Linked DNA regions of Homo sapiens. The protein of the gene in region 1 interacts with the protein of each later gene in a biochemical or structural test. Each region holds a gene or a part of one and is shown on either strand. Other genes may lie near its edges.

Region 1 (3,500 bases):
TAATTGGGTAATATGATCTACAGTCCTCCCTTGGTACTCATGGGGGATTGGTTCCAGGCCCCCCTGTGGATACCAAATTCAGTGGCTGCTCAAGCCCCACATACAAAATGGCACAGTGTTTGCAGGTAACCTACACACATTCTTATGTATACTTTAAATCATCTCTAGGTTATTTACAATGCCTAATACAGTGTAAATGCTAGGTAAATAGTTGTTATATTGTTAGGGAATAATTACAAGGAACAAAAGTCTGTACATGTTTAGTACAGATCAAACAGTACATGTCAACAACGTTACATTTTCTGGAATTTTTAAAAAATATTTTTGATCTGCAGTTGATAGAATTTGCTGAACTCATGGGTATATAGAGCCAACTGTATGTTTGCCATTCAAAGTGCTGTTGTAATTTTTATAATTCAGCACCTAAAAAGTTCTAGTGTATATTTGTAGTGGTTGATGAACCAATGCCTCATTTTGTTAAAATCTCAGGAGTGAACACTTGTTTCTTCTCAAGCTTTGCTTCTTGGATACTATAAAAGTGCACAACACTACTCGGGAGGCTGGGGCAGGAGAATGGCATGAACTCGGGAGACAGAGGAGCTTCCAGTGAGCCGAGATCATGCCACTGCACTCCAGCCGGGGCCATAGAGCGAGACTCCGTCTCAAAAAAAAAAAAAAAAAAGGGCACAACAGCATACTTTTGGGGGGGCCTCTGTCAGTGTTAGTCTGCAGCACAATAGCATTTCTGACTGTAGCTGGTGGGCTTCATTCTATTTTTAGGAAAATTATCTCAGTGACTTCAGACACCCCATGAGCTTAAAAAACCATCATGAGTGGTGTGTAATTGGCACATATATATCCAGAATCCTTTTGTAATTTTCACTTTTCTCTCAACTGCCTCTCAGACAAAAATTTTGAATAGTTTACAAAAATTAGCACACATGGGATCCATTCATTCAAATGTTTATTAAAATATTGGCTAAAATGTTTGTCATGCTTATGGTTCAGAACGCACTTATCACATTTGCTATTTTATTCCATGTTTCCTACAACCGGGGAGTAGGTATTTTTAGCTCTGTTCAACAGAAGAAAAACGAAAACCTCATAAAGATTAAATAATTTGCACATTGCTGCTTAGAACGTAATTAGCAGTGCTGAAATTGGTTTCAAAAATCCTTTGTTCTTTTTATTTTACCATACTAACTTCTGATGTGTACATAGTGATTACCGTCTATATAGATTGCAGCAGTCTGCCGGGCGCTAAGGATGAATTCCTCTTTCCTCACCACAATATATTGTCCCTACCCTATAAGACCTTATAGTCTGTTTGGAAAATTTACAATAATTATTAAAGAAGTTAAGGCACAAGAGAGTACAGAACTGTTACTATACACTGTCATTTTGACCAAGTTATATAATCTACGTTAGACCCAGTTTTCTCATCTGTTAAGTGAAGATGAGACTTCTCACAATGTTTTGCCAAAAAATGAGACAAAGTATGTAAACAATGGCAGGCCCTAATAATAAGTTTCCAGTACATTTTAACAATTTAGAATGTTCTGTGAAAGCTGTATAAGAAAAGTCAGAGGTCTAGATCTTAAAGATTAATAGGATTTGAATATGAAAGGCACATTTAATTATTGGATTGTGGAAGGGGGCATGTAGCAGGGTCAGGGATAACTCAGGTGTGCTCAATGGCAACAAGGAACCACACATCTTGGGCTATAATGGGGTTCATAGTAGAGAGTTGAGACTTTATTACATAGAAAAGTAAGCGCCATAATGAAATTGCTTCCCCCCAGCCATAGCTATTATCTTGTGGAGCTTTGAAATTTTTGGAATTGTTTGATCTATAACACTTGCATGCTAGTCAGATTTTTGCATGGCCAAATAAATCATCCTTCACCCAGAAAGAATTACATGGTCAAAAGAACACTACATTCTAATTTAAAAGCCTTGTCTTACAATACTTCTAAGCTGAATACCTCAGGCTAGTCATGTAATCTCTGATTCTTATTTTCCTCCTTATTTTAAAAAATATATTAACCCTAAGATTTATCTTCCAGAGCTATTAAGGCAATAATATGAAATATGCATAAGATGAGACTGAAAACTATAAAGAGGCATACAAATATAAAAGTTTGTTTTTATTGTCATGATTGTTCTGGACTTTTCACGGTGGTTATATTTTATTCTGAATTTTTAGTCAATAGCCATTTTCCAAGAAAACTTAACTAAAATAATTAAAGAATAAATAATATTTGGGTGAGTGGATATTCTGGGTTCTTTTAGACTGAAAAAATGCTGTTTTATATTCAGTTAGTAGTCTTTGGACCTGGATGTGTCTTCTTTTGACATCTGCTTCACTGCAGTACTGCTACTGAGATGAGTGGTGCATCATTAACCTTCATTGTTAAGCTTCTGTCATAAGGCGGGTTGAGCTGTGTCTTCCAACAGATTTAGACAAAATCATTAAACATTAATTATATGAATCTTGTACCCAGATAAGACATCTTAAGGTACATGTCTTGAGTGTTCAAGTAGCTTTACTTGAGTTACTGGGAAAAAAAGAATAGAGACACGTCTGTAATTTATTCTTCCAATATATGCTTAGATTGAAAGTGGCTGTGTAGAAGAAAAAGTTGAGATAGTCTCTGAATTATATTTTTAAAAGTCAAATAATCAAATTAGCTTACAGAAGCTTTATTAACAATTTTACTTCAACAATACCGGATAATATTTTCCCTTCCTCTTGGAATAATTTTAAACACACCTTTCATTTAGAAATTTCTTGGAAATTTTCAACAAATAAACATTGGTGTTTAAACTGTTAGAAATTCCTGACTCCTCCACTACATCACATTGCTGAAAGGACTTAAAACGTTCATTTAAAAATTTCCACTGGTGAATAAACTGCATTTATGGATTACAACTTATGGTTATGAACTTAGCATCATGCTAAATTTTTTGACAGACACTTTAGAAGTACAAATATAGTATTTTTCCTCAAGAAAGTTATAATCCTATTGAAAGAGACAAAAATAAAGCATGGAAAAATTCCTATAATATACCTAGACCTGACATAAGTGTGTAGACCTGACATAAGGGTGAGATGTCATAGAGATTTAGTATAGTTGTAAGAAAGGGTGATGAAACTTGGATTTAAGTCGAATGTAGAAGGATCTATCAAGTACGGGTAAAAAGATACCTTTGTGTGGAAACAATATGAGAAAATGCTCAGAAGGGAAGCCAGAGTTATGTTTTGGGCATCACTATTAAAAAAAACAACTAGTCTAGGACTTATGCACACATTGGTGAAGAAAAGGTGTTGTATTTGGAGGCACCAATAGTCCCAAGTTATGGAATGATTTTAATTCCAGACAGAAATATTTTTATTTGATTTTGATGATAATGGAAATAGTTAATGCTTTTGTGCAGGGCAATAAAATTATTTATGTAGTGTTTTTGAAAAAGTCACTTTGGTGACCAATAAAAACAGA
Region 2 (3,500 bases), on another chromosome or scaffold:
TGGCGGGGCTTCTCATGCGTGCCCTCCCCCAACCCTTCCTGTTTCGCCCCCTGCAAAACAAAGATCTCACCTTGAACTGCCCAGGATAGAGTTCCTTGGCGAGGGCGAAGAAGGGTTCCGGATGTTTCTGTAGGAGAGACAGCCAGAGGGCCAGATGCCCCAGGTAGCGTGAGGGTTGGAGCCAGGTGACCCCATCCCCACCCCTCACAGACGCCCCTTCCTGGGGGAGCACAAACCTTGAAATAGCTGATCTCAAAGATGGCCTCTGGGTAGGGAAGATGGTACTTCTCTAGGTTGTCATAGAGGCCGGTGGATGGAGAGCGAAAGTCGGGGATGCCTGCGGCTAGGAAAGGGGGGTCAGGGAGCAGTTGGTCTATACCATACTAACCCTCCCAGGACAGGGCTCAGATAGGGCTCCTCCCCAGCCCTTGGGAGGGACTCCCCAGTTCCTGGGGGTAGCTGCTGGGGGAGAAGGGTTACTTACATGTGGAGATTCCAGCTCCCACCAAACAGATGACTCTGCGACCTGGAGGAGAGGAACTTATGCACCATATGACACCGTTTGCTCAGTCCCTACGATAGCACCACCCATCACAGCCCCTGACATCGTTTACTCCATGCCAGGCCCTGGGGCAAGCATCTCAGATGCATGACGGGCCTTCCAATCATCTAGACGGGGATGGTGTTAACATCCCCATTTTATAAATGAGAAAACTGGGGCTCAGATAGGGGAAGAAGTCACACAATCAACTGCGGAAGAGCCAGCCAGCGGATAAAGAATCCAGTGTTGGGCTGGGTGCAGTGGCTCATGCCTGTAATCCCAGAACTTTGGGAGGCTGAGGCAGGCGGGTCATCTGAGGTCAAGAGTTTGAGCCCAGCCTGGCCAACATGGCAAAACCTCATCTCTACTGAAAATACAAAATTAGCCAGGCGTGGTGGCACGTGCCTGTAATCTCAGCTACTTGGGAGGCTGAGGCAGGAGAATCACTTGAACCCGGGAGGCGGAGGTTGCAGTGAGCCGAGATCATGCCATTGCACTCTAGCCTGGGTGACAGAGCGAGACTCCATCTCAAAAAAAGGAAAAAAAAAAAAAAAAGAGAATCCACTGTTGGAAATCACACCAACTTGGACTTGAGAAAAGGCCACTTTAGGATAAGAACCCTGGGCTGAGCAGAAATAGCTAGCTGGTGGCTGGTGAGTAGCCACCAGGCCATAGTACCCTGGCATCTGCCCATCAGCTGATAGACAGGCACAAGTGTGATATGCTGTGGATCAGATGCCTCTGGGATGCCCTGTCCAAGGGAGGACAGCAAAGGTGAACAGAGCACAAAGCCTGCCACAGCTTCAGCCCTGAGCTTCAGCTCTGAGATGCCATCAGGCCAGGCCTGGTTGAATCCAGTGGTGGCTACATGTGGTCTGGATTCAGGGGACCTGGGGTCAAATCCTGGCTCTGCCACTTGGCAACTGTTTGACCCTACACTGAGTCGTGACCTTTTTGTGCCTCCTTTTCCTCCTCTGTTCAGATCACTTCCATAATGATCTTACAGGTATAATGTGAATATCAAATAATAGGGCACTTGTAAAGTGCTGAGCCCAGTGCCTGGCAAATAGTGAAGCCTCAATTAAGTGGTTAAAAAGAAATTTTTAGGGCCGGGCCCGGTGGCTCACTCCTGTAATCCCAGCACTTTGGGAGGCCGAGGGGGGCAGATCACCTGAGGTCAGGAGTTCAAGACCAGCCTGGCTAACATGGTGAAACCCCGTCTCTACTAAAAGTACAAAAATTAGCCGGGCGTGGTGGCACGCGCCTGTAATCCCAGCTACTCGGGAGGCTGAAGCAGGAGAATCGCTTGAACCCGGGAGGCAGAGGTTGCAGTGAGCCATGATAGCGCCACTGCACTCCAGCCTGGGTAACAGAGTGAGACTCTGTCTCAAAATAATAATAATAATAAATTTTTAGAGCAGTGAGGTGAGGGTTGGAGCCTCACCTTTAAATTTTTGCAGAGAGGGGGTCTCGCTTATTGCCCAGGCTAGTCTTGACCTACTGGCCTCAAGCGATCCTCCTGCTTTCAGCCTCCCAAAATGGTGGGATTATAGGCCTGAACCACCACTCCCGGCCTCAACTAATTGTTATTTTTCATTACTATCTCCTCCTGGGCACCCTCATGAGCCAATTACCCCAGAATCCAGGTGCAGGAGGACACAAGGAACAAATGCTTTGTAGCCACTGCCTGTGTTGTCTTTGGGGCCTGCCCAGGCTAAAAGATGGCTGCAGACAGCTGCTCGCCTGCCGCAGGAGAGGGAGGCTCAGGGCAGCAGGCCTGGCTGCCTGAGGAGGGAGACAGTGGCAGCTGGAGGACAGGGACACAGGAGAAGATGTCCTCAACAAAAGGCTGCTCAGGAACCACAAAGGGTCGATTGTTCTAGTTGAGGACTGCCAAGGGCCTGGTTTCTCAGACTTTGGTGACCTCAACTTGTGGCAAGAAATATAAATTTCAGGCCGGGACGGGTGGTTCATGCCTCTAATCCTAGCACTTTGGGAGGCCGAGGAGGGTGGATTGCCTGAGCTCAGGTGTTCAAGACCAGCCTGGGCAACATGGTGAAACCCTGTCTCTACTAAAATACAAAAAATTAGCCAGTCGTGGTGGTGTGCGTCTGTAATCCCAGCCACTCGGGAGGCTGAGGCAGGAGAATTGCTGGAACCCGGGAGGTGGAGGTTGCAGTGAGCTGAGATTGTGCCACTGCACTCCAGCCTGGGCAACAGAGCAAGACTCCATCTCAAAAAAAAAAAAAGAAAAAGAAATATAAATTTCATGCTGACTCAGTAAGTGGACACCTATCCACCACATCTGAAATAAGCCTCCTGTAGTAATAACCACGGCACACCCTGCCACAGCTCTCGCTATGTTCCAGGCCCTGCTCTAAGCATTTGCATTTTTATTTATCTTTTAAATTTTATTACTTTATTTTTTTTTAGAGTCAGAGTCTCACTGTGTTGCCCAGGCTGCAGTGCAGTGGTGCCATCATAGCTCACTGCAGCCTCCAATTCCTGGGCTCAAACAATCCTCCCTTCTCAGCCTCCTGAGTAACTGAGACTACAGGCAACGCCCCCATATCTGACTATTTTTTTTTTTCTTGTAGAGATGGCGGGGGGGTCTCACTATGTTGCCCAGGCTGGTCTTGAACGCCTGGCGTTGAGTGATCCTCCCACGATGGCCTCCCAAAGTGCTGAGATTACATACATGAGCCACTGCCCCTGGTCCTATATTAATTTATTTAGCCCCGCCAATAACCTTATGAGTTAGATACTATAATCATTATCCTCATTTTATGAAACAGGCCTGGTCAATCAGAGTGCAGTAATTCACTCAGCAATGGAGAAGCGACCCAGGTCTGGCCAATCAGAGGCATGGGGGCAGGCATTTGACTCAACCGGGACCAATGGGAGCCAATCTCTGCTGTTTGGTTTGAACTACTGGGAAAAGGTGCTCTCTCGGTGGCAG

What was found. Proteins that work in one complex are often made in the same cells at the same time.
Region 2: the proteins of PLA2G4A (region 1) and SIRT2 form a complex in vitro, tested with the Homo sapiens proteins (one study listed by BioGRID).

Annotation. Positions count from the first base shown.
Region 1 is NC_000001.11:186,940,449-186,943,948, forward strand, and holds part of PLA2G4A (cytosolic phospholipase A2), read left to right. Parts: intron 1-3,500. UniProt on the Homo sapiens protein: Has primarily calcium-dependent phospholipase and lysophospholipase activities, with a major role in membrane lipid remodeling and biosynthesis of lipid mediators of the inflammatory response.
Region 2 is NC_000019.10:38,889,619-38,893,118, forward strand, and holds part of SIRT2 (NAD-dependent protein deacetylase sirtuin-2), read right to left. Parts: intron 527-3,500; coding exon 485-526; intron 344-484; coding exon 237-343; intron 128-236; coding exon 71-127; intron 1-70. UniProt on the Homo sapiens protein: NAD-dependent protein deacetylase, which deacetylates internal lysines on histone and alpha-tubulin as well as many other proteins such as key transcription factors.